2 linked regions of the Homo sapiens genome follow. The protein of the gene in region 1 purifies or fractionates together with the protein of each later gene. This does not show direct contact. Each region holds a gene or a part of one and is shown on either strand. Other genes may lie near its edges. The genes, in order: PCDH7 and CYBRD1.

Evidence for each region.
Region 2: the proteins of PCDH7 (region 1) and CYBRD1 purify together in Homo sapiens (affinity purification with mass spectrometry; one large-scale study listed by BioGRID and IntAct). This does not show direct contact.

Annotation. Positions count from the first base shown.
Region 1 is NC_000004.12:30,922,554-30,926,389, forward strand, and holds part of PCDH7 (protocadherin-7 isoform d precursor), read left to right. Parts: intron 1-3,836.
Region 2 is NC_000002.12:171,553,275-171,556,188, forward strand, and holds part of CYBRD1 (plasma membrane ascorbate-dependent reductase CYBRD1), read left to right. Parts: intron 1-71; coding exon 72-226; intron 227-1,249; coding exon 1,250-1,553; 3' UTR 1,554-2,914. UniProt on the Homo sapiens protein: Plasma membrane reductase that uses cytoplasmic ascorbate as an electron donor to reduce extracellular Fe(3+) into Fe(2+).

The sequences.
Region 1 (3,836 bases):
GAAACACACATGTCATGGAAAACTTAACAGGTGAGCTTGTTAATAAAATATAAAGTATACTGAGAAAGAGTTCCAAAAAACGACTTTTAATTCTTTTTTAGAACCAAGTTTTTAAGGCCTGTCAAAAGCAAGGGTCATGATAATGTAACGGATCTTTCCTGATTTTGTATGTGACCAACACTTGAAAGTCAGAGTTTATATGACCATTTGTCATCTACTGGCTGTGATTCATGTTAGCCTTGATCTATAGGTAATGACAAAATGAGATGCGATGCACTGTGGCTGATCTAAATGTAGCAGTTGACCTTTGAGTAACAAATTTGTTGGGTCCGTGTTTTCAGACTACTCATCTAGCCATAAAGTGCAATTGTGTTGCTTAAATTCTGGTAATTTCATCTTCAGTATTAATGGATCATTCTGACATAAATAGAATTGGAATTGAAACCTGTCAAGTATTCATTTGTCACATTTAATTGGAATCCAGGTAATCTGTAGTTTTTTGCTTGGCTAGGTTTTAATCAGGATTTGTATTGGATTTTCATTTGGATTTTCCATTAAAATACCATTTTGGATGCTGTGCTAGTTCCTAATTATTATTACCTCAAACATTTTTCTTGAATTTTAACCTATGTGAAACAATGCAGTTATCAGCAAGTGTTTGGGATTAACTTTCATTGTAAAGTTTAGAAGATAATTTCTAGTGCAATAACAAGTAAAATTCCAATGTCATGCTAACAAACCAGGAATAAGTTAGGATAGCTAATGATAAAAATACATTTTCACAAATGCAGAGAAGGAACAGAAACAAGAAAATTTAAGTGAAATGTACTTACATTTTACAAAAGCGTTATCTTCCTTCTGTACTGTAGTATGATGAATACAATTTCATTCAAAGGGCCTGTGTATTAATTCCCTGTTTAACAAGCTTTACGCTATATTCTAAAACACATTACCGCCAAATGTAGAATGAGGTTTTATTCTCTTATTAGCTAAGGAAAAAGAATATACCATAAGAATAAATATAATTTCTTACCACCGGAATCTAATAATGTAGAATGAGATCCACCATTTTAAAGTTCCAAATCTGTAGAATGCCACAGGTCCCTGGAAAGTAACACTAGAAATTACCCCATTTAAAAAATATTTTAAGAAAACCTTATTAGTTATACATTTATTTGTGACAAAGATTACTAATATATATTTCTTTGCCTTTAATTATCATCATTATGATAATTTCATGCTAATCTTTTAATATCAATCTAATCAAAGATTGAGGAAATTGGTTATTTGTTTCATTAAAATACATTTAGCAATAAAGTAATAATTCATATAGAGTTTATGGGGGAAATAGGTAATACAAACATTTGACAATGAAAATGTTAGAATAATTGATGCATATTGCAATGGATTGGTAATTCAAGTTAAAAACCAAACATTAGGCTTAAAAGCACCATCTCATTCAAGGCAAGCATTGACTGTGCAAGAGTTTGCTCTTATTTTAATTACGCAGTAGTCTTCAGACTTTCTCTTGGAGTGGTATACAATGGTTTCTTTAGGTCTATTGTATTTATCCTGGTCCCTACCTTCATGCCATGACCTACTTGATCTTTCCAAAGCCCCCTCTAAATTATCTTTGCAAAGCCAGTTTGCCTTTGCTATGTAAGTCTTTATGATAATTAGTGTTTAATAAGCTCAGATATAGAAAACACCTTGCTTGGCTTCTCATCTCAATTTTGCCATCAGCATTGGGTAGGCTACTGTCTAAGGAAATTGATAAATCAACTCTGAAATCTTACTCGGTTCCAGGTCCAATAATCTGTGATTCTCTTACATTCAATTTTTCTTGTATCTTTTATGCTATAGAATGGAGACATTTGTCTCATAGTAAGATAGTGAGTGAATTTGACAATGTATGTTAATGTGGGCAGGCCAGTAGTGATTCTAGGGCCTTTCTCTGAACCCACACAGCAAGTGCATTTTAATAGTAGAAAATGCATTTATTACATAAATCAAAGGAGTGGACTGAATCAAATGGTGTGATTTCTGGCCAGGTGGGTGGAAATGTTGGCACCATAGTAGGCCAGTGTGGGAGACAGCTGTGGAGCCTCCTTCAGATCCCACTATGCAAGAACCATCTGTAGATCTGATCAAGCCCTGGGTGCAATGCCCTTGAAATACATGAATTATGATTAAGACATTTCACAATAGAATAAGCACATGTGTTTTCTTACTTAACAATGTGAACTTTGGTCAGAGTACAAATGAAAAAAAAAAGGTAGGAAATAATATATATTTTTCTGTAGGTAGACTTTCTTAAATATCACACCATAAAAATAAATTAAAAAAAAAACAGCAGATGATCCATAAACCAGGTTTATAACAAGTTAAATGAGGTTCGAAATTTGGCCACTCTAAATCCCTAATTCATTTTATGCCTCTTGATTTTCTCAGATCTTTAAATAATACTTTTGACTTTATACATGAATATTTTTGAACTTTCCCTTTCCAAACTTCCTTACTTTGTCACACTTATATAAGCTAAGCTCAACTGTTTGATTCATTCCATTTCCTTCATCTCTTCATTCTACATGCATTATACCTTGTCCTTGATTATTTAAACATGCTGCAGTAAAACATGGACTTTTCATATTGCTTTTAGACAGTGTATTTGAAATATCATTGAGAATAAGCCACTAATTTTAAATGGCCAAGTGTAATGAGCATAGAGACCAAAGGCATATCTTTGTATGAGATAAAGGACCTCCTCTTTCTCTCTCCTTTTCTCCTGTCTCCCAATTTTCAAGCAGGCATCTGTCAGGCAAAGTTGTCTAGTTATTGGTTTGTGCTGATTTCACGTAGATTGAGCAAACTTCTCTAGCAAGGCTGCCTCTTCCATCTTTCCAAAGATCCTCATATACTTTTTAATGGCATAAGCACAATACCTAAAATACCAAATACCTGTCATACCTTTTTTCGTCTTCTGCAGAAAGAGACTAACATGACTTGCTAAGGATTCATTTTCACAGTTTTGCATTTCTCTGTGCCACCCTAGTTGCCAGTGTCTGACTGAGGCTGCAATTGTTTTCACCTTTCCTGTCAATTGTGACATGGCTCTATACCTCCCAAGTATCCCCCAAAAGTCTGTATGCCACCACTTTGGGAGGGTGCTATTCACTTTGAATTTCTTCATAGTAATATATAGAGAGATGGATTATAGAGACTGTCTCTAAGCCAGAACTCAACTAATTAAAATGTGTGCTATAGTGGCTTCTCAGCTGTCTAGTAAAATGAGCAGTACAATCTAAAAGAGTCTAAAGAAGGTACTGTCCTAGAGAAGAATTGGCAGTGCTGTAAGTAGAATCTACTGGTTTACAAAACAAGCTTTGAAATCTGATGACCTCAGTTTGAATCCTGGCTTTACCTCCTACAAGGAGTATTATTTTCTAACCCCTCTTAGCTTCAGTTTGTTCAATTGCAAATCATAGGATTGCAGAAGGAACTAAATGAGACAATAATATGCAATAATTTATAAATAAGTAATAAGTTGTATTTTCACTATATTAATTGATAAAATGTTTTACCATTATTATTTAAATAACAATGATAAATAGTTGGGATTATTATTAACTTTAGGTCGTTTTTTTTTTTTGAGATGGAGTCTCACTCTGCCACCCAGGCTGGAGTGCAGTGGCACAATCTCGGCTCACCGCAAGTTCCGCCTCCTGCGTTCAAACCATTCTGCTGCCTCAGCCTCCAGAGTAGCTGGGACTATAGGCGCCCGCCACCACACTCGGCTAATTTTTTGTATTTTTAGTAGAGACAGGGTTTCACCATGT
Region 2 (2,914 bases), on another chromosome or scaffold:
CTTTTTAAATAATTTAAAATTAGTTTAGAACTTAAAATTAAATGATAACCTTTGCACTTTTTGGTGTTTAGCTTCTTTCAGGTTTTTCAGTCTTTCTGCTTCCATGGGCTCCGCTTTCTCTCCGAGCATTTCTCATGCCCATACATGTTTATTCTGGAATTGTCATCTTTGGAACAGTGATTGCAACAGCACTTATGGGATTGACAGAGAAACTGATTTTTTCCCTGTAAGTTGCATAGTCTTCTTAATTGTAATACTTAAGCCACAAAATGTTAAATACTTGTTCACTGGGAAAATGTAATAAAAATATAACAAAATTTTTTAGATATTAAAATTAAAAAATATTTTAAAGAATTTGTTATATCATATAGGTAATATGATATTACTAAAAGTTTAGAAGGACCAAAAAGTCTGACAAATTGTATTACTCTTATGAAACAACTATTGAAGTTATACATTCCCTTTCAATCTTGTTGATATGCATGTTTTTATATTAATTGTAATTATAGTGTACATACATTTTTGTTTCATCCTTTTTAAAAATTTTAAGTGATAACTGTTACTGGTGGAGGGTGTCCAGGTTCTTGGCGTTTTGAACAAAGAAGTGGACAAAACACACAAACAAAGCAAGTAAAGAATGAAGCAACAAAAGCAGAGAGTTACTGAAAATGAAAGTACACTCCACAGGGCGGGAGTGGCCTGAGCAGCCACTCAACGGCCCGATAGGGAATCTTCTTGGGTCCAAATAGCCCCTAGAGGTTTCCCATTGGCCAGTTGGTGTTCACTGCATGTAAATGAAGTGGTGGCCTGCAGTCAGTTTGATTGGTTGTAGAAAGCAACCAATCAGAGATACTTTCAATTTTCCATCCGCCATGCAGAAAAGCGGGGTTTGCAAAGGGAGTAGCCTCGGGTCCTTTTGCTACTTAGATGTGGAAAGTTGGGGTTTTCCTTTTGGTTTAGTTCTAGGAAGTCCGTGTGAATTGACCTGAGGTTGCCTGCCTCCAGACCCTACCTGCCTTAAAACAAGTGTTACAGATGCTATATTATTTTCATATTTATTATTTTTAAATCAATTTCATTATATATTCCCGAGTGAATTGTAGCATAATTTATATTTCTCCTTAATAGCAAGCTTTGAGAGTTTACATTGAAACTGTACTAGTGTGCATTTTGAGCAGATAAATTCAAGACTGTTTTGCATGTTGCTGTATCATCCTGTTTGTAATTGGATACATCTCTTATTTCATAGGAGAGATCCTGCATACAGTACATTCCCGCCAGAAGGTGTTTTCGTAAATACGCTTGGCCTTCTGATCCTGGTGTTCGGGGCCCTCATTTTTTGGATAGTCACCAGACCGCAATGGAAACGTCCTAAGGAGCCAAATTCTACCATTCTTCATCCAAATGGAGGCACTGAACAGGGAGCAAGAGGTTCCATGCCAGCCTACTCTGGCAACAACATGGACAAATCAGATTCAGAGTTAAACAGTGAAGTAGCAGCAAGGAAAAGAAACTTAGCTCTGGATGAGGCTGGGCAGAGATCTACCATGTAAAATGTTGTAGAGATAGAGCCATATAACGTCACGTTTCAAAACTAGCTCTACAGTTTTGCTTCTCCTATTAGCCATATGATAATTGGGCTATGTAGTATCAATATTTACTTTAATCACAAAGGATGGTTTCTTGAAATAATTTGTATTGATTGAGGCCTATGAACTGACCTGAATTGGAAAGGATGTGATTAATATAAATAATAGCAGATATAAATTGTGGTTATGTTACCTTTATCTTGTTGAGGACCACAACATTAGCACGGTGCCTTGTGCAGAATAGATACTCAATATGTGAATATGTGTCTACTAGTAGTTAATTGGATAAACTGGCAGCATCCCTGGCCTGTTGTCATGCAGTCATTTCCTGTTAATTCTGGGAGACAATGATTTCACAACTAGCGGGAAGCAGTCCTAAAAGTTTAAAATCCGATAAGGAATATCTGGGACAGGGTTTAGATCATGACTCTACACAGATACCATGATGAGAGTATATTAAAGAAATTTAGGAAAGCACCTGGTTCCTTTCTCCCCATGCCTGCCTTCTGCTCCCTCCCCAGCTGGTTTGGGCTCAAATTGTCCCTGGAGACTAGGGTTTATGTTAGGGTATTGATAGATTAGAGCAGGTGGTTGAAGAGATCTTCTCTGGTCAGACTTGGAAGAATTTCCAAAACTGAAGTTAGCCCCAAGACTTCCCTAGGGTTGATGTACTTTATGATCCAGATGCTAAACTTCTTAGAATGAAAATATGCTTCAACACTTAAGTAGCATACACTGCCCTACAAACCTCAGAGAGCACTTTTCCCCAAGTTCTTGTTTTTATTTTTGAAAGTACTCACACAGCACTTACTATGCTCCAAACACTCCTCTAAGCACTTTACACATATTAGCTCATTCAGTCCCCAGACAGACGGGATGAAGTAGGTATTGTTACTGTTCCCATTTTACAGGTGAGAGATTTGAAGCCTGGGGAGGCTAGTAACTCACCCCAAGGTCACACGGCTCATACATGGTGGGACTGAGACTCAGATGCAGGCAGTCTGGCACCTCAGTCTGGATTCTAACCATTTCACTAAGCTATTTTTGTCTTGTACTACTTTGACCCACCCCTGAATAAACCTCAATTGCTGGAGTGGGGTGTAGTTATTAAAGGGATGCTTTTTACCTTTTGCTGTTTGCTGTGGCAGATTCCCCAGATAACCAAGGAAAAGGGGCCACCCATACCTGGAAATAGGCCATAGGGCCCCTACTACTGCCAACAAGCCATGGCCTACCTTGACACTTGTTTGATCTTAAAATTGTGTCTTGGTAACAAAAGATTTGGACAGGCATATCTGTAGCTTTCAAGTTAATTAATTGCAATA